7 linked regions of the Homo sapiens genome follow. The protein of the gene in region 1 purifies or fractionates together with the protein of each later gene. This does not show direct contact. Each region holds a gene or a part of one and is shown in the gene's direction. Other genes may lie near its edges.

The links.
Region 2: the proteins of OGA (region 1) and GNS fractionate together in Homo sapiens (co-fractionation; one large-scale study listed by BioGRID). This does not show direct contact.
Region 3: the proteins of OGA (region 1) and KLC1 fractionate together in Homo sapiens (co-fractionation; one large-scale study listed by BioGRID). This does not show direct contact.
Region 4: the proteins of OGA (region 1) and PSMB7 fractionate together in Homo sapiens (co-fractionation; one large-scale study listed by BioGRID). This does not show direct contact.
Region 5: the proteins of OGA (region 1) and DIDO1 fractionate together in Homo sapiens (co-fractionation; one large-scale study listed by BioGRID). This does not show direct contact.
Region 6: the proteins of OGA (region 1) and ST13 fractionate together in Homo sapiens (co-fractionation; one large-scale study listed by BioGRID). This does not show direct contact.
Region 7: the proteins of OGA (region 1) and IL22RA2 purify together in Homo sapiens (co-immunoprecipitation; one large-scale study listed by IntAct). This does not show direct contact.

What each region holds. Positions count from the first base shown.
Region 1 is NC_000010.11:101,808,445-101,811,944, reverse strand, and holds part of OGA (protein O-GlcNAcase), read left to right. Parts: intron 1-1,630; coding exon 1,631-1,761; intron 1,762-3,500.
Region 2 is NC_000012.12:64,742,407-64,745,906, reverse strand, and holds part of GNS (N-acetylglucosamine-6-sulfatase precursor), read left to right. Parts: intron 1-182; coding exon 183-248; intron 249-999; coding exon 1,000-1,098; intron 1,099-2,598; coding exon 2,599-2,766; intron 2,767-3,500. UniProt on the Homo sapiens protein: Hydrolyzes 6-sulfate groups in N-acetyl-d-glucosaminide units of heparin sulfate and keratan sulfate.
Region 3 is NC_000014.9:103,632,211-103,635,710, forward strand, and holds part of KLC1 (kinesin light chain 1), read left to right. Parts: intron 1-3,500. UniProt on the Homo sapiens protein: Kinesin is a microtubule-associated force-producing protein that may play a role in organelle transport. The light chain may function in coupling of cargo to the heavy chain or in the modulation of its ATPase activity.
Region 4 is NC_000009.12:124,401,943-124,405,442, reverse strand, and holds part of PSMB7 (proteasome subunit beta type-7 precursor), read left to right. Parts: intron 1-10; coding exon 11-126; intron 127-3,500. UniProt on the Homo sapiens protein: Component of the 20S core proteasome complex involved in the proteolytic degradation of most intracellular proteins. This complex plays numerous essential roles within the cell by associating with different regulatory particles.
Region 5 is NC_000020.11:62,888,506-62,892,005, reverse strand, and holds part of DIDO1 (death-inducer obliterator 1), read left to right. Parts: coding exon 1-19; intron 20-850; coding exon 851-1,046; coding exon of another isoform or gene 1,047-1,075; exon of another isoform or gene 1,076-3,500. UniProt on the Homo sapiens protein: Putative transcription factor, weakly pro-apoptotic when overexpressed. Tumor suppressor. Required for early embryonic stem cell development.
Region 6 is NC_000022.11:40,846,640-40,850,139, reverse strand, and holds part of ST13 (hsc70-interacting protein), read left to right. Parts: intron 1-1,770; coding exon 1,771-1,846; intron 1,847-3,500. UniProt on the Homo sapiens protein: One HIP oligomer binds the ATPase domains of at least two HSC70 molecules dependent on activation of the HSC70 ATPase by HSP40. Stabilizes the ADP state of HSC70 that has a high affinity for substrate protein.
Region 7 is NC_000006.12:137,163,645-137,167,144, reverse strand, and holds part of IL22RA2 (interleukin-22 receptor subunit alpha-2 isoform 1 precursor), read left to right. Parts: intron 1-3,500. UniProt on the Homo sapiens protein: Isoform 2 is a receptor for IL22. Binds to IL22, prevents interaction with the functional IL-22R complex and blocks the activity of IL22 (in vitro). May play an important role as an IL22 antagonist in the regulation of inflammatory responses.

The sequences.
Region 1 (3,500 bases):
CTGGTAATGAAACTTAATGTGATCAATAATCAAAATAGAGTAAAAATGACTATCTTGAGATACTACTGAAAATTATTCAAAAATATGTCTTATAGTATATACTAGTAGTAGTTAAGTTGATTTAGGAAAATTGTCAATTGATAATTTTAAAAGGTTAAAATCTATAATTAATGTTTTTCCCATAGATAGAAACAGGTCAAGATTGTTAAGGCCATGACTTAACTCTGGTTCTTTTTCTTTTTCTTTTTTTGGAGACAGCGTTTGTCACTTTGTTACCCAGGCTGGAGTGCAGTGACTCACTGCAATTTTGATCTCCCCGGCTCAAGCAATCCTCCCGCCTCAGTCCCCCAAGTAGCTGGGACTACAAGCGCGGGTCACCACACCCAGCTAATTTTTGTATATTTTGTAGAGAGAGGGGTTTGCCATGTTGCCTGTGCTGGTCTCAAACTCCTGAACTCAAGCAGTCAACTTGCCGTGGCCTCTCAAAGTGCTGGGATTACAGGTGTGATTCATTTTTTTTTTTTTTTTTTTTTTTTTTCATTTTTTTTCATTTTTTGAGATGGAGTCTTGCTGTGTCGTCCAGACTGGGGTGCAGTGGTGCGATCTTGGCTCACTGCAACCTCTGCCTCCAGGGTTCAAGCAATTCTCCTGCCTCAGCCTCCCTAGTAGTTGGGATTACAAGTATGCGCCACCACGCCTGGCTAATTTTTGTATTTTTAGTAGAGATGGGGTTTCACAATGTTGACCAGGCTGGTCTCAAACTCCTGACCTCAGGCAGTCCTCCTGCCTGGCCTCCCAAAGTCCTGGGGTTACAGGCATGAGCCATTGGGCCTGGCCTACCCTGATTCTTAAGAAAGCATTTTCTTTCTTTCATATTATAAAGTAGTTATGTGTAGGTTTATTTAGTTAGGAATTCCAGCTGTTCAGAGATGGCAAAACAAAAAAAAAAAGCAAGATCCAGTACCATGGCTCATGCCTGCAATCCCAACACTGTAAGAGGCTAAGGCAGGCGGATCACTTGAGGCCAGGAGTTCGAGACCAGCCTGGGCAATATGGCAAAACCCTCATCTCTACTAAACAAAAATTAGCCGGGTATGCCTGTAATCCCACCTACTCAGGAGGTGGAGGTTGCAGTGAGTCAGGATCGTGCCACTGCACTCCAGCCTTGGGCAACAGAGCAAGGCTCTCAAAATAAAAAAGCAGCGGCTGCATTTTATGCCTTTCAAATGCTGCAGGAAATAGAAATGGCTTAAGTTCAGTAAGAGAATTGACAATTCAGTGTTTTTGAGAAGTGGCAATGAAAGGGAGGAAAATGTTTATTGATTTTAGCCTGTTTCCCCAAAAGGATAAGAAACTATTTGGAAGTGAAAAAGAAGGGCCTCTTATTTTCTGTTGGTTCAGATTTCAAAGGTGTGAAAACTATTCTTTTTCCCTTACTGTGACATTAAATCACTTCAGGCTTGTACCATTTTGTATGGCCTGTTGTTAAGTTGGACATGACAATTTGTAAAATGTGAGGATCTTTTCCTTTCTTGTAAGTTAGAAGAAATAACCTCTTCAGTTAAACCTTCAGTGAAGGTTCTTTTAGTTTTCTGTTCTGCTTTCTAAAAACATAGACTCTGTTCTTTAGAGCAACTTATGACTCTCATCTCTGCTGCACGAGAATATGAGATAGAGTTCATCTATGCGATCTCACCTGGATTGGATATCACTTTTTCTAACCCCAAGGAAGTATCCACATTGAAACGTAAATTGGACCAGGTAACTCCTTACTTTTTATTCATTTTTCCTGACTATGTACTTGAAACTAGAAGTTTACTCAGTTGCTTTTACGATGTTAAAAGGAAATCAAATTCCTATTTCTTTGTTTTCTTTTTTTGTTTGTTTGTTTTGTTTTTTGAGACAGAGTCTTGCTCTGTCGCCCAGACTGGAGTGCAGTGGCACAATCTCGGCTCACTGCAACCTCCTCCGCCTCCCGGGTTCAAGTGATTCTCCTGCCTCAGCTTCCCGAGTAGCTGGGACTATAGGTGCGTGCCATCATGCCTGGCTAATTTTTGTATTTTTAGTAGAGACAGGGCCTTCACCATGCCAGCCAGGCTGGTCTCGAACTGCTCACCTCATGATCTTCCCAAAGTGCTGGGATTACAGGTGTGAGTCACCATGCCTGGTTTTTTATTTCTTTGTTTCTATAAGAATTTTTTTTACTTTGAATGCTTTTTTTTTCTTTTTTTTTTTTTTTGAGACAGAGTCTTGCCCTGTTGCCTGGAGTGCAGTGGCCCAATCTCGGCTCACTGCAACCTCCACCTCCCAAGTTCAAGCGATTCTCATGCCTCAGCCTCCTGAGTAGCTGTTACAGGCACACCACCATGCCTGGCTAATTTTTATATTTTTAGTAGAGACAGGGTTTTGCCACGTTGGCCAGGCTGGTCTCGAACTCCTGACTTTAGGTGATTCACCCACTTCAGCCTCCCAGAGTGCCGGGATTACAGTCGTGCGCCAGTGCACCCAGCCTTGAATCCTTCTGATAGAGGAATATTTTCCAAATTAAGTAAAAAGAGCTTTACTGGAGGTACTAGTTCTTCTCAAATTTCAGTTTGCATAAGAACTGCCTTAAAAGAATGATTAGAAGTGAAGCTTGGAAGAATGCTGACTGCTGGACTTTATTTCCCAAATGGATAAGGTGGGGACCGGGAATCTAGGTGATTGGTGGTCAAGAACCACATTTTGAGAAATTATATATACCCTAGGCTGCTTGGCTTGAATTTACACCTGAGATTACAGAAACAGGGTTTTACCTATTAGACATTAGTTTCTTCAATTATATGGACGAAGAGATGTCTGGAAATGGCTAGTTTCCCAAGATGAGAAGAAAAACAGACTAGGTGAACCTAATTGAGTGTAAAGTCTGCTTAATGTAAAAGCTGCAGACTTCCTTTGGTCCAATGTAGGGGGCTTCCATTTTCCTTTTTTTTTTTGAAACTGAGTCTTGCTCTGTCGCCCAGGCTGGAGTGCAGTGGCGCGATCTCAGCTCATTGCAACCTCTACCTCCTGGGTTCAAGCAATTCTCTGGCCTCAGCCTCCTGAGTAACGGGGATTACAGGCATGTGCTACCACACCTGGCTAATTTTTTTGTATTTTTAGTAGAGATGGGGTTTCACCATGTTTGCCAGGCTGGTCTCGAACTCCTAACCTCATGGTTTGCCCGCCTCGGCCTCCCAAAGTGCTGGGATTACAAGTGTGAGCCACTGCGCCCGGCCCCATTTTTCTGTTATTTTAGTTTGCTGGTTTTTCTATATACATGTCTTATTTCTTTAGGCAAAGATTTATATGGGTGGCATTAAAATGTCTGGTAAAAAATTTAAGGCAGTTGAAATTTTCATGAATGAAGTTATTTTACTATTTGATAAAATTCTATTCTTTCTGATTCATACCTGGTTAGGTTTATCTGCAAAGGGATCAGTGTGCCTTTTGGGACTAGGACACAGCCTGGCTTTTTCATG
Region 2 (3,500 bases), on another chromosome or scaffold:
AACTCCTGCTTTAGAAGTTCCTAGGATTATTAGCGTTTATTTTTGACTAGTGTCTATTTGGGGAAATTAGGTACCTACTATGTTTCAGGCACTGGTCTAAAAAGATTGTAAAATTTCCTGTTTCTTTCTGGTCTGGTCATATCTAAGGACTTGTAATTGTCCCTACTTGTTTTGCTTTTCAGTACGGAGCCCCAGATGCAGGTGGACTAGAACACGTTCCTCTGGGTTGGAGTTACTGGTATGCCTTGGTGAGTGATTATTGAAGTCTGTGACAATTTTATGCAGCCCTACAGATGCAGAATATGTTTAATTTAGCTCTGATATTGACATAACTTTATTTGCTTTTACAATTAGTCATTTTAAAAACCTTAAAATTTATTGACTTGTGGCCAGGTGTAGTGGCTCACGCCTAGAATCCCAACACTTTGGGAGGCAGAGACAGGAGGATCTCTTGAGTTCAGGAGTTCGAGACCAGCCTGGGCAAAATGGCGAGACCCCATTTCAACAAAAAATTTTAAAATTAGCTGGGTGTGGTGGCGTGTGCCTGTAGTCCCAGCTACTCGGGAGGCTGAGGTAAGAAGATCACTTGAGCCCAGGAATTTGAGGCTGCAGTGAGCTGTGATTGTGCCACTGCATTCCAGTCTGGGCAACAAAGAGAGACTCTGTCTCTTTAAAAAAAAAAAAAAAAAAAAAAAAAAAAAAGTCTATTGACTTGTGAGTCACTCCTTTCTGGGATGTTTTTCCTGCATTGTACAAGGTTTAGCAAAGTAGTTTGCTTTTCTACCTGATCTACTTCTGGCTTTTAAACTAGAATGCATAATTGAAACTATGCTTGTCTTTAATAAAACCCTAGTCAAAAAATCCAATTCAGTATTGACTTGAGTAATTATCTTTTTAATGTCTTATCACTGCTCAGAGTAGAGTTTAGCCCAGCACGGATTCAGACTTCCACTTTGTGCACTGACCTCATAACAAATTTGACTTTCCTCTTTTTAATAGGAAAAGAATTCTAAGTATTATAATTACACCCTGTCTATCAATGGGAAGGCACGGAAGCATGGTGAAAACTATAGTGTGGACTACCTGACAGATGTTTTGGTGAGTTGCAGAAGCTTTGTAGCTCTGTCCTTACAGGGTTGGCTCACATTTGATTGAAGACTCTGCCTAGAAAACCTATAATCTTATTCGTTTGTGTTGGGTAATATAAATGCACAGTAACTTGGTCTAACTGCCCAAGAGTATTTCCAGCTGATTACAAACTCCTCAGGGTGTTTTCTTTGTGTATAAGCCAGGCTCAGATCTAATGCTCTTGAAATTCCAGCAACAAATCCCTTTTCCAAAGGTTAATCTCTTCGACTACAGAGATTACTTTGTAGAGGTTTTACTTTGTAAGTGTACCTACTCTTGACCCCGGTTTTACTCACAAGCTACAAGATGTCAGCTTCACAGGCCCCATTATGAGGATGGAGAGATAGGGATACTGGATTTATTTGGGCATTGGGTATTTACATATAAAAATTACTGAAAGCAGGTGAAATTGGGACTTTCCTATTCTGAGGCGTTTCTAATGACAGTCTTCAATAGTATTATATATTCACTCAATAGTTGAGCACCTAGTGTAGCCAGTGTTCAACAGTAAATGAAGCAAAGTCCCTGATTCTGTGGAAGTTAATTTTATTTACACACACAAACACACACAGTCTTACGTGTTGCATCATTAGCTGGTGATCAGTTCGAGAAATAAGTTAGGGTATGAGGTTACTTAGATAACATTTAAGCAGAAACCTGAAGTAGGTGAGAATGAGCTGTGCAGATCAGGGGGAAGAGTGCTACAGAGTCAGGGAATAGTAAGTAGGAGGGCCCTGAGGCAGGAGTATACCTGGCATATTTGAGAAACCACAAGGAAGCTGACAGGACTGGAGTGAAAGGTGGATGGAGGGATTATAGGAGATAGATACAGTCAGTATCTGTTGAGTTAGTGTTGGGAATACATGAAACTACTTCAGAACAATGAAAAACAACATGTATGTAGCATGCTTTCATTTTCATAAAGTATCTCCTGATAAGCAAAGGCAAAACTTAAGTCCATGTATTAAAACCCTAGTGGAATGTATTTGAATCTAATATTATTCACTTAGCTACTTCAGTGCATAATTTATGACATCTACTTTCTACATATTTTCATAAGGTTAAGGTAACTTAATCTACCTTTCCCACTGTTTTAAGTTGACTGTCTTTTTACATTCTTTAAGGCATCACATGTAGATACCATAATCTCCATTAGTGTAAGTTAATAGTAAAATATCCAAGTTACTGTTTCCTTCTTTGTGGGAGACATGATTTCTAGGTCATAAAAAGTCATCAAGATCTTAATTGCCTTCTTATGTTGGTATGCTTCTCAGTTTTTAAAGTATTGCCTAAAAAACAAATATATTTGTTCCAACAATATGCTTGCAAATGGCTATGACATAAGATCATGTGCTAAGATTGCTTAAAAGCTAGTAAGACCCTGTACTGTCTGCTCACCAGAAGACATTTATCTATTAAATACTCATCTGTTGGGTAAGGTAGGAGATGACAAATCTTTTTATGTGTCAGGCTAATGTCTCCTTGGACTTTCTGGACTACAAGTCCAACTTTGAGCCCTTCTTCATGATGATCGCCACTCCAGCGCCTCATTCGCCTTGGACAGCTGCACCTCAGTACCAGAAGGCTTTCCAGAATGTCTTTGCACCAAGAAACAAGAACTTCAACATCCATGGAACGGTAGCTTCCCCCACCACTTGTATTCAGCCATACTAAGTATCATTAACTATATGGTATACTTGTCAGGAAGCCTTTGAGCCATGTAGTGGGTTTTTCTTCACAATATTTTAAAGGTAATTGCATCTGTCCCTAGTACAACCAATAGTATAAACTTGCATTGCAAGTACAGATAAAGTTCCTGCTACACATCCAGTGAGCAGCTGGAGAGTTGACAGGGAATGGTAAAGAATGCCATCTTTCCCAATTTACAGGAATATCACTCAGGCTCTCCTGGTAACCTCTGTGCTGACTCTCCTCCCTCCTGGCATAGCCGGGACTGCACCAGCCTCCTGGTGGCCCTCACTAGCCTTTGAGGCATGGGAAGAAGGGGTGGCACAGAGCAATATGGTTGGAAAGGGAAGTTGAATGGAAAAATGAACGAGGTGACATGATTAAGAACCACAACAACCCATGTATTTGCCTCACGTGCCAATTACTTATACTTCCCTTGGCTTGGTGTATAGACAGTTCCCTGGTTCAAAGACAGAAGGCCTGCATTGCCTCAGGTTTGTTATCCAGAAATTGTAATTGCTTGTAAGGTTATAGAAAGAATGAGTCATAAAGTCAAACTCAGTACTACCACTTTCTAGCTCAGTACAGACTATGAGCACGATGCTTAACTTCATTTTTTCATGTGAAGTGGGAGTTCTTGATCCCTCATGGAACTACTGTATGAATTCAAGTACATAGAAACA
Region 3 (3,500 bases), on another chromosome or scaffold:
AGGTCAGGAGTTTAAGACCAGCCTGGCCAACATGGTGAAACCCCGTCCCTACCAAAAATACAAAAATTAGCCAGGTGTGGTGGTGCACACCTGTAATTCCAGCTACTCATGAGGCTGAGGAAGGAGAATCGCTTGAACCGGGAAGTGGAGGTTGTAGTGAGCCGAGATCACGTCACTGCAGTCCAGCCAGACTCCGTCTCAAAACAAACAAAAAGAGCCGCTGTCAGCCGTGCAGTGGCTCACTCCTGTAATCCCAGCACTTTGGGAGGCCAAGATGGACCGATCACCTGAGGTCAGGAGTTTGAGACCCGCCTGGACAACATGGTGAAACCCTGTCTCTACTAAAAATACAAAAAAAACCAAAACCGGGTGTGGTGGCGGGTGCCTCTAATCGCAGCTACTCAGAAGGCTGAGGCTGGAGAATCGCTTGAACTGGGGAGGCAGAGGTTGCAGTGAGCCGAGATCACGCCATTGCACTCCAGCCTGGGCAACAAGAGCAAAACTCTGCCTCAAAAAAAATAAAACCAAAAAACAAAAAAACTCTGTCCTCTAGGAGCTCACAGGCTGGCATGGGCAGGTACCACAGACCAGGTTAAAGGCTGTGGAGTGCACTGAGGAGGCGATTCTTCACAAAAGAAAAGTACCAATCAGCCAGTGTCAGGGGGTCAGGGGTGGGATTGGGATTGGGGTTCCTGCTTGGAGGAAATAAATCCTGAGGTTGTGCTGCTGTAAAGGGGCATGTTGGGAAGGGGACATGGGAGTGAGTGTGGAAAGACGAGGTTAGGAAAGGCCTTGAATGACTTCTTAGAAGTCTGCTTTCATTCTGAGGTTTACAAAGGAGGGTTGGAAGATTTTTTTTTTTTTTGAGATGGAGTCTTGCTCTGTCACCCAGGCTGGAACGCAGTGGCACGACCTCTGCTCACTGCAGCCTCTACCTCCCAGGTTCAAGTGATTCTCCTGCCTCAGCCTCCCGAGTAGCTGGGACTACAGGTGCGTGCCACCACATCCGGCTAATTTTTTGTATTTTTAGTAGAGTCGGGGTTTCACCACGTTAGCCAGGATGGTCTCCATCTCCTGACCTCGTGATCCGCCCGCCTTGGCCTCTCAAAGTGCTGGGATTACAGGCGTGAGCCACCGCGCCTGGCCGGAGGGTTGGAAGATTCTGAGGAGCCAGTTGCCACTTTAGAAAGAGCATAGGCAGTGGTGGGGCAGGTGCTGTGAACTGGGATGAGGTTAATTAGGAAGCCATTAACCCCAACTCGGCAAGCCTCAGGATTAGGGCAGTGACAGAAGGAACAGAGAAGCTAGGTGGGGGCAGGGGCTGGGCTGTAAGGGTTATAGTGGAGCTGATTTGGGGCTGACTGGATTGGGGTAAATGAGGAGCTGCAGGGAGGACTCCCCAGAATGATCCTGTGAAAACCTGAGTCACTCCTCTGTTAAAGCTTTTGTCAGTGTCCTCTGAGCACCCCACCCTGTCTCTTTTCATCTTCCTGCTCTGGCCCTACTCAAGCACTTCCAGGTGCATCTGGAGTTCTGAACCAAACCCATTCTTGTAGTGATTAGCATTTCTTCACTTCCCCACATACTCCTTAGCCTCTGCCCTGATTTTTCTCCTTAGCACACCTCACTATCTTAAATGCTGTATTATTATTATTTTTTTTTTATTATTACTTTTTGAGACGGAGTCTCGCTCTGTCACCCAGGATGGAGTGCAGTGGCATGATCTCAGCTCACTGCATCCTCTGCCTCCCGGGTTCAAGCCATTCTCCTGCCTCAGCCTCCCAAGTAGTTGGGACTACAGGCATGTGCCACCACACCTAGCTAATTTTTGTATTTTTAGTAGAGACAGGATTTCACCATGTTGGCCAGGCTGGTCTCGAACTCTTGACCTTAAGTGATCCACCTGCCTCAGCCTCCCAAAGTGCTGGGATTACAGGCCTGAGCCACCGTGCCTGGCCAATACTGTATTATTTTAATCATTTTAAAATTTTTATTGTTTGTCTCCACTTAACATTCATAACCTCCACAAGGATGGGGAGTTTTGTCTCTTGTATTCAGTGTCGGTGCTTGGCGTGTAATAGGAACTTAGTAAATGTTTGTTGAAGGAATGCATCTAGAATGATCCTCATCTCTAATTTGGGTGATTCACTGGCTGGTGACACTCATCCAAGGAGGGAAAATGGGAGAAGGATGAGATTATGAGTTTGTTTTTGGACATGTTAAATCTGAAGTGCTTGTGGGGCAGCCAAGTGGACTAGTGGGCAGTTAGAGATACATCTTTGGAGCTCAAGACAGAGGCTGAGGCTGGAGGTAAAGATTCCAGAGACTGCATCATATCGTTGAGCCAGTCGGGTGTGATGTCCATCTGGTAGAGATGGGGAGTGGGTCTAAGAGGAGAGGGTCCTGGGAAACCAAGAGAAGAGGAGGGAGGAGATCAGTAGCAAATTGGCTAAGAAGTCAGTGATGGGTTGGACTGAGAAGTCTCTATGGATTTTGCTTCTAGGAGGTTACTAATGACCTTTAACTTTTTTTTTTTTAAATATAGTTTATGTAGAGACGGGGGTCTCACTGTGTTTCCCAGGCTGGTCTCGAATTCCTGGGCTCAAGCCATCTGCCTGCCGTGGCCTCCCAAAGTGTCGGGATTACAGGTTTGAGCCACTGCACCCGGCCTGTTGCCTGTTTCCTGAGAATATTACCTCTTAAGGATGGAGGCTATTTCGAGATGATCTTCATTCGTTCTCCCAAGGCATCCTTTGTGGCGTTGTACTCTGTAGCCTCCTAGTTAGTATACTCATGGATCAGAAATGAATTATGATTTTTTTTTAGTTTTAACTAATTTTTGGAGGCAGATGAAAGCAGTTTGCATATATGCTTTTTGAATTTGAAAAGTGCTATCTGAACTTAAAGCAACGGATATGGAGCAAACATGTTAAGCTGAGTTACGTGCATACGTGAACTGAGTTACTTCCTTGGTTCTAAAATATCTGTTACCTTCATTTAAACCATAGATTGTTCCCTGACTTCAGTTGCATAACATAAATTTATGTTCAGGCTTCTCTGAAGTTCACTATGCTGCTACTAAAACTGATCAGAGTGATGTTTGCACTGTTCCAGAGAAAATAGGTACTGTAAACCCTGCGGATGTCATATGTGTCTGTAGTTTCAGTTACTCCGAAGGCTGAGGTGGGAGAATCAGTTGAGCCCAGGAGTTCAAACTAGCTTGGGCAATATAGTGAGACCTTGTTTCTTAAAAAAATAAAAGGCTGTGCTTGGTGGCTAATGTCTGTAATCCCAGCACTTTGGGAGGCTGAGGAGGGCGGATCACCTGAGGTCAGGAGTTTGAGACCAGCCTGGCCAACATGGGTGAAACCTTGTCTCTACTAAAAATATAAAATTAGCCGCGTGTGGTAGTATGCTTCTGTAGTCCCGGGTATTTGGGAAGCTGAGGTAGGAGAATCACTTGAACCCGGGAGGCGGAGGTTGCAGTGAGCCAGATCGAG
Region 4 (3,500 bases), on another chromosome or scaffold:
TGATCACCAGGTATCAAGGTTACATTGGTGCAGCCCTAGTTTTAGGGGGAGTAGATGTTACTGGACCTCACCTCTACAGCATCTATCCTCATGGATCAACTGATAAGTTGCCTTATGTCACCATGGGTGAGTGTAACGTTTTCCTGATGTTTAAGAGTACTCTTACTTACCACGATGGTCTCTTGAAGAGCTGGTCTGTTTTCTCTTAGAAGAGGAGGTGCAATACAATGCTTTGATTCATTCAGCAAATATATACTGAGTTCCTACTATAGATTAGGCCGTGTTCTAGGTGCTTGCTATATAGCAGTCAACACAATTCTGATAGTGATTCCTGCTCTCGAGGATTTTGTATTTTAGTGAGGGTAAATAGACAATAAACAACTGTGAGAAGTATATTTATAATACACAGGTATTCTAAATTAATACACAGGTATTATAAATATATATAAATATACACAGGTTATACAACCTGTGTATTATGAATATATTTTTATAGTCTGAAATCTGAAAAGCTCCAAAATCCTAAAGTTTTTGAGTGCTAACATGATACTCATTGTAACATTTTTATTTTTATTATTTTTTTCTTTTTTGAGATGGAGTTTTGCTCTGTTGCCCAGGCTGGAGTGCAGTGGCATGATCTCGGCTCACTGCAACCTCTGTCTCCCGGGTTCAAGTGATTCTTCTGCCTCAGCCTCCCAAGTAGCTGGAGTGATAGGCACACGCCACCATGCCCGGCTAATTTTTTGTAGTTTTAGTAGAGATGGGGTTTCACCATGTTGGCCAGGCTGGTGTCAAACTCCTGACTTCAAGTAATCTGCCCACCTCGGCCTCCCAAAATGCTTGGATGGATTATAGGCATGAGCCACTCTGCCCAGCCTCATTGGAGCATTTTTGATTCTGGATTTTTGGATTAGGGATGCTGAATTGGGTGAGTTATAATGTAGATATTCCAAAACCTGAAATCTGAAACACTTCTGGTCCCTGGCATTTTGGATAAGGGCTACTCAGCCTGTATTAGAAAGTGATACTAAGAAAAAAAGTAATACAGATGATATTGTACTATAGTTACACAAGATACTATCTTTGAGAGAAACTGAGTCAACTTCATATGGAAATGCTCTATTTTTTACATCTGCATATGAATTTGCAATGATCATAAAACAAAAAATTAAATTCACACATGATAAGGGGACTTGGGAGTTGTGGGCAGGGGCTGGGGTGGAGGCAGATGGCAGTGTTAAATAGAAAGATCAGGGCCAGGCACGGTGGCTCATGCCTGTAATCTAGTGCTTTAGGAGCCTGAGGTGGGAGGGTTGCTTGAGGCCAGGAGTTTAAGACCAGCCTAGGCAACATAGCAAGACCCGGTCTGTGCCACATATATATATAAGCTGAGTGTGGTGGTGTGTGCCTGTAGTCCCAGTTGCTTGGGAGCCTGAGGCAGAAGCATTGTATGAGCCCAGGAGTTTGAGGTTGCAATGAGCTGTGATCAAGCCATTGTACTACATCTTGGGCAACAGAGTGAGACCCTGTCTGTTTAAAAAAAAAAAAAAAAAAAATGTCAGGACAGGTCTTATGAAGAAGGTGAGATTTGAGTAGAATTCTAGAGTAGAAGCCTTACATTGAAACTTGGCAGGTACATTTTGACCTAGAGGAGTGATTGTGGTCCTTCTTTACTACTTAATCTCTGAGGGATTGGGGTATTTGATTTCTATCTGAACCTCAATTTCCTTACCTGTGAAGTGGTATTGGTAATACCTACCACACCAAGTTGTAATGGTTGGAAATAACGTATATAAAGCATGTGCTCCAATGCCTGGCCTGTAAATAGTAGTTATTTTTTTGCCCCCTCTCTTCCTCATTTGCTAACCAGCTTTTTGCATTTATGTTTTAGCTCTAGCTGCTAGATTAGGAGATTTTTTGACAGGCTCTCACTCTGCTGCACAGGCTGGAGTACAGTGGTGCAATCACAGCTCACTGCCACCTCGACTTCCCCGGGCTCAGGTGATCCACCCACCGCAGCCTCCTGAGTAGCTGTGACTACAGCCATATTCTGCCACACCCATCTAATTTTTGTATTTTTTGTAGAGATGGGATTTTGCCATGTTGCCCAGGTTGGTCTCGAACTCCTGGGCTCAGGTGATCTGCCTGCTCCAGCCTCCCAAAGTGCTGGGATTACAGGTGGCTGATAATTTTTTTTTTTTTAATGACTGCAAAAAATAGTGATAAAATTATATTTAGAAGAATTGGGATTTTCAAGTTCTAACATTTACATTATTGCTTCTGGGTCAAATTGCATAGGTCCAGAAATTCGAACAGGTTGTGTGTATCGTGTAGCTGGTGTTTTTCCAGCTGTCATTTACCTCTTAATATTTTCTGTCTTGGTGTCTTGGCTCCACATCTAGGAAAACTGCTGCCTTGAGTAGTTTGGAAATTGCCAGTTTGAGACTTTGCTATGCCATTGTGTTGTTATCTAGCCTCTTACAAGGTTTTTATATAACAGATGTTCACTGTTTGTTGGGGAGAATGATTTATCCCCAGATACCATACGGATGAATCTTTGCAGTTATTCTAAAATGAAGATACTTATGGTAATTTTAGAATTGTTCTGAATTGCTTTATTCAAAGGTATTAGGTATCTCCATCAAAGTATTGCTTTTATTTCTCCCCATCTGATACCTTTAAATGGTGGTAAAGGTGGAATAACCTTTTCTATTAAGTAGTTTTTATTTTTTCTTTTTTTTACTTAAATTTCAGACTTGCAGAAAAGTAACAGTAACGTTCAACAAACACTGATCTGTCCTTTACTCAGATGTGTCAGTTGTTAGCATTTTGACACATGTGTTCTGCCTCTCACACACACATTGTTATTCCTATCATTGTTTCGTGTGCGTGGGGAACCATTTGAGGGTAAATAGCAGGCACCACAGCCTTTCACCTCTGAATCCTTCAAGATGTTCTCTTCTGTCACCTTGATAAAGTCATCAAATTTAAGAAGTTTGACATTGATACAAAGCAGCTTCATTTGTAAAATGGGAAAATTGGTTTCTCTTGCCAGTGAACTGTGGTAATTTGTGTCATGAGCATAAAGCTGAATTAGGAAAAGTTGTTGAAAGTGAGTAGGTAAACAGCTTTGTGTCTGCCCATTTTACTTCTGCCGCCCAACTTTGTGCTTTTTCCTGGCCAAGAGTGACCTCCTGTCTGTCCAAGTCTCATTTGAGTTCCGGGTGATGGGTCCACAGCTCTTGAGTTTATAGAATAATTCTATTTAGAAACCACTGACTCCACACAGACTGGTTTTGCTGCCCTAAAATGCCAGATTAAGGAGAATGAGACATCAGTAACATCTGATTTTAATACCCAAGTAAATTGTTACTTTGAGGTCTTGTTTGTTCCTCCACTCATTTATCAGCTTTTTTTTTTTTTTGAGACTGAGTCTCGCACTGTCACCCGGTCTGGTGTGCAGTGGCATGATCTCTGCTCGCTGCAACCCCTGCTTCCCG
Region 5 (3,500 bases), on another chromosome or scaffold:
CAAGTCTTCTGTGTCTAAGGTACCTGCTTATAGTATAAATTCTGCAACCATGGAAAATTGTGTTGATTTAAACACATCTTTTTTTAACCTCTCGTTTGGATGGGTTAACACTTAAAATGTTAGCCTGTAGCTTACTAGATATTTCCAGGTGAATGTTAAAAATTAAGTTTTGCAGTGAGCCGAGATCGCACCACTGCACTCCAGCCTGGGAGACATAGCAAGACTGTCTCAAAAAAAAAAAAAGTTTACATAGTTGTATGACTGTGTGAAGGTGTCTGAGTGTGCCGCGGTAGAAGTTTGTTTCTGATTTATTATAATGTATGTGCGGTTAAATTTTAGGAAGAAATAGATACGTTTTATTTTCTTGTTTTTTTATGATTGAAGGAGCAGAAGGTGTCTTTTGCAGGGGTGATCAGGCTCAGGGCACTCAACCTGGGCTCTTGAACGGTTCTGGTTTTCTGGGACCCCCTGAGATTTAGCTACAGCTGTGCGTGTCTGTCTGTGGTTTTCTCTGGGGAATCTCTGTAGTCTTCGTCAGGTTCACGAAAGGGCTAGACCCTGTCGTCTAGTTTAACCCCCTCTAGGGAGGGGCACAGACAGCCATTGCAGATCATGCAGCTGGTTCCTCGTGACCGGGGCCGTCGTGCATGTAGGAAGAGCCGGCTCGGCTCCAGACACTGCTGGGCTCACATGTCACGTGAATTGCCTCACTGAGACAGCAGCTCTGTGAGATCGTGGCTGTGAGTCGGAGAGATCTGACAAGGTTTCCTGTTGAAAGCAGGATGTGAATTGGGCGTGTGATGCTTGAGCCACATTTTCTTTATGAGTGCTTCCCACTCTTCCATTGCAGGAGCTCTGTCTGATCCGCTTCCACCCCGCCACAGAGGAAGAGGAGGTCGCCTATATCTCTCTCTACTCCTATTTCAGCAGCCGTGGCCGCTTTGGTGTTGTAGCTAATAACAACAGGCACGTCAAGGACCTCTACCTGATCCCGCTGAGCGCCCAGGACCCTGTTCCATCCAAACTCTTGCCCTTTGAGGGACCAGGTAAGCGCCGGCTTTCTGGGTGGAGGTGAGGCCCACCTGCACCTGCACCCCTCCTCCCACTGACATGCCCTGCTGAGTCCTGACCAGCCCAGGGCTCTCTGGGAGCAGGAGTTAGGAGCACAGACGCAGCGGTTAGCAATAGGATTCATCTTTGAGGGCGTAGGACTGTGGCACGAGAAGTACCCCTGATTCACAGCATAAATTGTCTTAGGAGAGTTTTTTAGAGAGGGAAAAACCCACAGCCTGCAACCAGCTCATCTTGGCCTCAGGTCAGAGAAGACTCAGTGCCCAGAAGCCCAAGGCTCAGCCAGAAAGGGAGGTGACACTCCCAGCGGCCCTGCTCTTTCCTCTAGACAGACTCGGGAGCCAGCACACACCGGGAAGTGGCTCCATCAGGGATCACTTCTCTAACAGGGATGGATTTCCAGGAGACTTAACAATAATGACATAGAAAACTATTTCTAGAAATAATTATTTTAAAATCTGCAGCTCAAATTGTAATAGGTTCATTCATCTTTGGCAAGCTATTTTGTGTTTGCACGTTCCTTGGAAAGTACTGTATTTAAACGATTATTTACAAATAGCCTAAAATACATCTTTGTCAAGGGTTGAGGGTGATTCCAGGGGCCACGTGCTCTGTTAGTGACCAGCTCTTTCATAGCCCCTTAGAAGAAGCTGATGTGACTTCAGTTAGGGGTTAGTATCTGATGCCCAACTGAAGTGTCTCCGTGGCCATGCAGTCCCCAGAGGATTGGTGTTCTCTCAAAGCGGGTGTGTGGATCACACAGTGTCCTCTGAAGTGCTTCGTCATAAAGGCAGGTGCTGTCTGGACCCTGTGCCTCAGTGCCCTCTGTCCCTGTCACCAGGCCTCGGCGGGTGTTCCTGCCATAGCTGTGCAGGGTGTTCCCACCCACACCCCTCATGCCGCACCCTAGCTAGCTGGGGTCCTGTAGGGGCCACTCCACATCTTGGGCGGGACTTCTGTCGCCCCAGGCACAGCCCACGTTCCTACTGGAGCCCATTCTTCACAGCTGGAGTGGGCTCAGCCTATGCCTGTGTTGTGGAATTATATGTCCATAAAGGGATTGGTTGGTATCAGTAATTTCAGGGTTAAATATTTGCTGGCGTGGTGCATTAAATTATTTTAGTGCCAGATAAATTTTTAAAAGCAAAGTGCTTTAGTGTGTCCCCTCAAATCCTACTTGGGATAAAGAGATGCCACCTAATGGGTGGCAGAAAGGACCCTGGTAGAGGTTCTTGGTGTTGCTTGTGAAGAGCTCTGGCCAGCTCCACGTGACCAGGGAGAGGAAAAGCCCGGCCCTCCTGGAGGTGAAGACCGAGAAGCTGGCCTCTCCGCACCTGTGAAGACCCACTGGTCAGTTGCAAGTGCGACAGTGTGTGCACTCAGTGCAGACACTGCAGCACCTCAGCACCTCCCTACCGGGGTGGAAAGAGCACTTTTTCTTTACAGAAACATGATTCTTAGATAGCGAGCCTCCCCTTTTTAAAACAATTGAGGCGATATTTCATCCTTTCTTGAGCTTCTCTCCCTGCTCATCTCCAAACTTGGAGCTGTCAGGTGAGCACGGTTGTAGGGTGTTGAGCGAGCCCCGGCGCATGCCGGGCACCGGGTTCCCCACACTGGGCAGTGACGGGGCCCAGGGAGGCCACCAGAGGAGCGGCGCCTCCATTCTCCCCACAGCAAGGGCTGGCTGTGCAGGTGCAGCCCCGGGGCAGAGGGAAAGGACAGGTCTCCCAGCACCTCCCGGATGGCACCGGGACAAGGAGGGCTGGGCTGGGGTCACTCACCTTGTCTGCTGAGTGCGATGGCACCAACCACCCACACTGTCAGCTCCGCGACCAGCTGGGGGAACGTCACACTCGCCCACCAAGGCACTTGCTGAGGCCACGACGCCGCCTGACGGGGACACACAAAAGCCCCAGGGACTTTGATCCACGATAAAGAGCAGAGGCGTCTGGGTAAAGTAACACAGGGCAAGGGACTTTAGAAAAGTAACAGCTAGTGAAACCTTTCCATACACTTCAGAAATGTTTTAACTTAAGACTTCAGTATAATGTTAACTTCTCCTGATGTCCTTGTTGACATGAATGCGTGTGCGTGAAATCTCACACACTTCCATGGTCACTAAACAGCCTTCACCCCGGGCCAGGCCATCGGGTACTCGGCCCGCTTCACGTACTGATTACTTGACTTGGCGTTTTCTAGATATAAACATGTACATGTGTGTCCTGGCTTTGTGGTGTAAATGTGTAGTGCGTGTGCATGTGCGCGCGTGTGTGTGTGTAAGGCTAGGTCCTGGCATGTTTCCCCTGTCTCAGCGGACCCTGTCCTCACGGAGATAGCCCAGAAGCCCTTGGACAGCACAGGCCACACCTGAGGGTGCTGATGGTGGTGACTCCACAGAGCTGTGGTCAGGGGTGAGCGTGTGCTGC
Region 6 (3,500 bases), on another chromosome or scaffold:
ATTACAGGTGCATCCCACCATGCCTGGCTAATTTTTCTATTTTTAGTAGAAATGGGGTTTCGCCATGTTGGCCAGGTGGGTCTCGAACTCCTGACCTCAACTGATCTCTCAGCCTCCCAAGGTGCTGGGACTAAGGCGTGAGCCACCATGCCTGGCCCAGAATGCTTTCTTCATAATTTTTTATTTCTCTCTTCTGCCTTCATATCTAAAAGGCTTTTTTTTTTTTTGCAAATTTTCTGATTAGCTGTCTTAAATCGACAAGAAAATAGCTGTTTTATTATTTAGAAACTTAAACATTGTTATCTATTTGGATCTTAAAGTGGAAGTTATGTCTATTAAGAAGGAGAATGCGAAAAGGTAAGCAAAAGCCCAAAAAGTAGTTACCTTTTTTTTAAAAGGACCATTTATCAGAGTGGTATTTTCTGAGCCCTAGATATTTTGCTATTTGGCAAATGTGTATGAAGGCAAAATTATATTTAACCTATGTGTCAGCTGAAAATTTTTTGTAAGAAAAACATTCTAAACTAGAATTATGGCTTGTCTTTTCTTTTCAATATATTCTAGAATACCTAGACTTTGCACATTTTATAGGGACTCAACAAATATTTTGTGACAAGGTAGGTTTTTGGTTCTAATTTTTTTTTTTTTTTTTTTTTTTTTGAGACAGAGTCTCACTCTGTTGCCCAGGCTGGAGTGCAGTGGTGCGATCTCTTGGCTCATTGCAAGCTCTGCCTCCCAGGTTCACGCCCTTCTCCTGCCTCAGCTTCCTGAGTAGCTGGGACTACAGGTGCCCACCACCACGTCCGGCTAATTTTTTTGTGTTTTTAGTGGAGAAGGGGTTTCACCATGTTAGCCAGGATGGTCTCAATCTCCTGACCTCGTGATCCACCCACCTCGGACTCCCAAAGTGCTGGAATTACAGGCATGAGCCACTGCGCCCTGCCTTGGTTCTAATTTTTTAAGTAACAGGGAAGCAACCTAAAAATGGTTAACAATATATGGTTGAGTGAATAGATGAAGGTAGGCTGATAATGGTATATAATTTACAAGATACACAGCGTTGTTAAATGCAAAAGGCAAAGGATAGAGTTGTTTCATATATAGAGAGACTATCCTGCAATGGGATATACAAGAAACCACACTGGTTATTTATAGGATGGGAAGAAAGTGTTGCTTTCTATATGTCGTGCACTTTTAAATTCTTTGAATTTTCATTGTTTATTATTGTAATTCCACAGGTTCTTATTTGCAGTTCCAAAACTCAAAAACCCTTGTAAAGATTTTTACTAAATTTGGCAATAAAATATAATGTGAGTGGACATGAGGCTATTTATAATCTCTAAACTGTTTATTGTCAATGTTCAAACTTTATTTTGAACAGTTGTTTTTTTATTTTTGAGACACAGTCTTGCTCTGTCGCCCAGGCTGGAGTGCAGTGGCATGATCTCAGCTCACTGCCACCTCCGCCTCCCAGGTTCAAGTGATTGTCCTGCCTCAGCCTCCCAAGTGGCTGGGATTACAAGCGGGCACCACCACGTCCGGCTAATTTGTATTTTTAGTAGAGATGGTTTCACCGTGTTGGCCAGGCTAGTCTTGAACTCCTAACCTCAAATGATCCACCCACCCCAGCCTCCCAAAGTGCTGGAATTCCAGGCATGAGCCGCCATGCCTGGCCATATTTGACAGTTTATACATAGATTTGTAGAAATTAGTATAAATATTCGGTATGTTATTAAATACTGATAGTACTGTTTGTCTTCCCTTTGCTAGGAAGAAAAACCTGATAGTAAGAAGGTGGAGGAAGACTTAAAGGCAGACGAACCATCAAGTGAGGAAAGTGATCTAGGTGAGGAGACGGTAGTTAGTTTGTATTTGAAAACCTATGATGTGATACTTTGTTGATTTTTATTAAAGTGACTTAAATCAGCACTGTGTAATAGAAATATAATGGCACATATGAAACTTAGAATGTTCTAGTAGTCACATTTTAGAAAGTAAAAGGAAACATGAAATAAATTCAGATATTAATGGCATATTGGTTGAAATATTGACATGTGTAATCAATATTTTTTTTTGTTTTTTTGTTCTTTTTGAGATGGAGTCGTGCTCTTGTCACCCAGACTGGAGTGCACTGGCACAATCTCGGCTCACTGCAACCTCCACCTCCCAGGTTTAAGCCATTCTCCTGCCTGAGCCTCCCGAGTAACTGGGATTAGAGGAACCTGCCACCACACTCGGCTAATTTTTATAATTTTAGTAAAGACGGGCTTTCACCATGTTGGCAAGGCTGGCCTCGAACTCCTGACCTCGTGATCCACCCACCTTGGCCTCCCAAAGTGCTGAGATTACAGGCGTGAGCCACTGCACCTGGCCTCAATATTTGTTAATAATTTATTTTGCTTCTTTTTTTAATAGCATTCAAACTCCAAAGGGTATTTTACACATGTGGCACCCCTCAATTCAGGTTTTACATTTTCATTGATAATAAATCAGACTTCATAATGTTTGTATTAGAAAAAGTTGGGTTACATATTAAAGTTGTTCTAAGCATACTTAAAAAGTTTTCTTTTTTTTTTTTTTTTTCTTTTTTTGAGACGGAGTCTCACTGTGTCGCCCAGGCTGGAGTGCAGCAGTGTGATCTCAGCTCACTGCAGCCTCCACCTCCCAGGTTCAATCAATTCTCATGCCTCAGCCTCCCTAGTAGCTGGGACTACAGGCGTGTGCCACCAGGCACGGCTAATTTTTGTATTTTTTTTTTTTTGTAGAGACAGGGTTTTGCCATGTTGCCATGTTGGTCAGGCTGGTCTTGAACTCCTGATCTCAGGTGATCCACCTGCCTTGGCCTCCAAAGTGTTTGGGATTACAGATGTGAGCCACCATGCCCAGCCAAAAGTTTTCCCATAACTGAATTGAGTGCCAAAAAATAGTATTTGTTTAGTTCTTACAACCATGTTGATAAAACTGGTTCATATTTAGAAGAGTAGTTATCTGTGCTATGAGTTTGGTTGGTTTTTTGGCCACAAATTGACTAAATTTCTTCATGAATTTGGAAGTCTCTTATATCACAGAACCTGAAGAAAAGTACTTGAAATGTTTTAAATTTTGAATCAGTTTTTTTTTGTTGTTTTTTTGGGGTTTTTTTGGAAGACTTGAGTTTCGCTCTGCCACCCAGGCTGGAGTGTGGTGGCACAGTTTCGGCTCACTGCAACCTCTCCCTCCTGGGTTCAAGCGAGTCTCCTGCCTCAGCCTCCTGAGTAGCTGGGACTACAGGCGTATGCCACCATGCCTGGCTAATTTTTTTGTATTTTCAGGAGAGACAGAGTTTCACCATGTTGGCCAGGCTGGTCTCAAACTCCTGACCTCGGGTGATCTGCCCGTCTTGGCCTCCCAGAGTTCTGGGATTACAGGTGTGAGCCACCACGCCTGGCCTGAATCAAATTATCTTTGATATCATTAGAGGTCTTACATTCTACTGGCAGTTGTTTGAGTGCTAAATTGAA
Region 7 (3,500 bases), on another chromosome or scaffold:
CAAATGCTGGGCCATTGTCTGATCCTAAAGTTAGAGGCAGTCGAAATCTAGGAATAATGTCCTTTAGTAAGATTCTGGTTACTTCCCGAGCTTTCTTTGTCCTGGTGGGAAATGCCTCAACCCACCCTGAGAAAGTGCAGACAAACACTAGCATGCACCGGTAGCCTCCGGTTCGAGGCAGCTCAGTAAAGCCCACATGCAGGTTTTCACAGGGTGTAGCTCCAGTTTCTTGAATCCCTGGGGGCCATGTTGGCCCCTGCTGTGGATTGTTTGGGGCACAAGTTAAACATTACTCATAAATGGCTCGAGTGATGGCAGTTAGGCTCAGCAATAGAAATGCCATCCTACAAGAGTCTCTAATGCAGTTTTTCCCATATGTGTTCCTTGATGAAACTGTTTTATGAACCAGGGGCTATTGCTTCTGGGATAGCTGGCGAGCCTCCCATTTGAGAACTTCCACCAACTTCCTTTCTGGTAACTTCCACTTTCCTGCTCAAACCAAGCCTTTTCATTAGAGGAGTAGTTAGGGGGTTCTGTAAGAGGAAGCTCCAATAAGGGCATGGTAAGGGTTTCCTCTTCCTTCTTAGTTATCGCTGTCATTGCAGCTCTTTTGGCTTCTCTTTCTGCCTTTCTGTTTTCTCTGGCCTTGTCATGTCCTCCTGTTTGATGCCCTTTGCAATGGATGACTGCTACTTCTTTTGGAGCCCATACAGCTTCTAAGAGCTGCTCTATTTCCTTTTTATTTTTGATTTCCTTTCCTTCAGTAGTTAACAATCCTCTTTCCTTATATATGGCTCCATGGGCATGCAAAGTGGCAAAGGCATACCTTGAGTCAGTATAGATGTTTACCGACTTTCTTTGGCCAAAAGCAACACCCTAGTGACAGCTATTATCTCAGCTCTTTGGGCTAAAGTTCCGGCCGGCAGAGGGCAGGTTTCAGCTGCTGAATTCAGTGTTACCACTGCATATCCAGCCCAACTGATAAACCTTTAGATATGAAGCTGCTTCCATCAGCAAAGTATTTAACATGTGGGTCTTTTAAGGGCTAGTCCTTTAAGTCTTTTCAGCTTGAGAAAACTTCATCCACAGTTTCCACACAACAGTGATACCCTGGGCCACACAATGGGGGCTTTCCATGCTCCGCCCATTCTATCAGCAGCAGTGTGGCCGGATTTAGAGTATTCATAGTCTCCAAGGTTAGGTAGGGGATTTCACACAAAAGCCCTTGATATCTTAACATTCTAGGGTTAGAAAGCCAGCAATGTCCCCTCTGCTCCATCAGAGTGACAACCGTGTGGGGCACCCAAATTATTACCATTCCTCTGTTGTTGGGACAGTAAGGGTCTTTATCATGGCTTTTCTTTGACCTAGATTTAGAGTCATGTGCCCTTCTGGTATAAAGGAGATTTGTGCTTGCAATTTCTGGAGGAAATCTCTTCCTAACAAGGGCACCGGAAAATTTGGCATTCATTCTTCTAGTGTCCCATCTGCTTGCATCTCACACATTGATCTCCCTTAAGCCTAAGTTGGCCCTCTTGTCCTGGCTTAGCTTCCTGGTTTTACCTAGTTTGTCCTCTATCATGACCGCAACCACGACCACATCCTCTCACAAAACCAGTTTCTCTTCCAACTAAGGCCACCGCCAGCAAGTCTGCCTTTTCCTTAGCTCTGCATCTAGCTTTTCTCTTGGCCTCCTCCTTCTGATTTACAAACACCTTAGTAGCCACCTGGATAAGCTGGGTAATATTCACACCTTCAAACCCTTCTAACTTCCGATGTCTTCTTGCACCTGGCTTACAAATGCCACATTAACCATACACTGATTACCCGCAGCCTCTGGGTCAAGTGGCATGTAAAGCTGGTAAGCCTCGCACAGCCTCTCATAAAATTCACCGGGACTTTTATCTGGCTTCTGGCGAACCTCTGAGACCTTTCCGATATTGGTGGCCTTTTTCTCTCCAGCGTTTATTCCATTTAGGAGTGCCTCTCAATACTGCTGCAAACTTGTAGCCCTTGAGCCTGGTTAGGGTCCCAGCCTGGGTCAGCCTCTATCAGGAGTGCTTGTTGTGTATACTGCCTGATATCTCCTGTGCTTGAAGATGCATTTTTCTCCAGCCACTGGAGAGCAGCTTGTATAACTCTACGGTGCTCTTCCATATTAAATAATGACAGAAAAAAATGTTTACAATCAACCCAGGTAGGATTGTGAGTTAGGAAAATGGACTGCATTAGATCTATAAGAGCCTGAGGCTTCTCTCTATAGGAGGGAGTATGTTGTCTCCAATTTAAGAGATCAGTAGTAGAGAAGGGCTGATAAAAGAAGAGCTGTTCTCCCCCTTGGACTTCATTCTGTGCATTCAAATAAATTTGTCCCCATGTTTCTCAGAGTGGCATCTGCATTGCTTGGGCACGGACCGACCTAAGGCGGCCGACCTCATCACCCTGGAGTTCCTCCCTTGGCTTTTCAGTCAAGGGCTCTGGCTCCTCTCTGCGTGGTGTTGCCTGAGGGGTGCTTCCTTCTGAGTCTGAGTCTCCGGAGGCAGCCGGGGCAGCCTTCTGTCTAAGCTTTGCCAGAGGTGGATAAATTGGTGCATAGTGGGGTGGAATTTCTAACTCTTCAGGCGGGGCCTGTAGGACAGGTTTTTACTGCTTTTCCTGTGACTTTTCTTTTTCTGATGCCTTGCAGTTTCTTTCTATTGTTCCTGGTTTTGTCTTGGCCGTTAGAGTCTTACAGTAGATCTCAAAGTAGGCCTGCAGCCACTTAGGGAGGGTCTGAATTATACTTAGCCAGGAGTCAATATACGGAAACTGATCCAGGTGCCCGGGCTGTTCTCCAAGCCTGGTGACCACCCGAAACACTCGGCCAATTATCTCCCTGTCTATTGTCCCCTTGGCTGGCCACCCTACATTAAAAGATGGCTATTTTATCTCAAAAAAGTTCTCAGTTTCTGTGAAGTTAGCTTAACCCCATAGTCACCATTAAAACTTTTTTTAAAGTTTTTCAGCACGCACTCCAGTGGAATAGGCTTTGACGCTTTTCCTCCTGTTTCCTCCCTTGTGATGCACTTTCACTCTCACTTTCACTCTTGGATCCACCAGACTGGGTCCTATTACAGGAGGTTCGGACACTGCTTAGCCAGGAGCATGCCTTAATTCCTGTCACAGCTAGCTGCAGCTGTGGAGCTGGTCCTCTGGGCCGTATGCAGTGTCCTAGGTCTGGTTTTTCCCACACTCGCCTGGGAGCACACAGTCCACGCTAAGAGATCTGTGCCTCCCCACATCAACCCCGCCTTGGTCTCTCCCGAGACCATCTCTTTTACACACTTTCACACACCTCCCCCATCCCCAAAATGGTTTTCCTTTCTGACCGACTCATGAGCCCCACTTACGTCTGGTGTCAATTAGGGTGTGAGTTTCATCTGAATCAATGGGCCTCTCCCATTGTCCCAACCCCCTCGGGTCAGACTAGTTGTCATGCCCTTGGAGGTGACCAGGCTCCC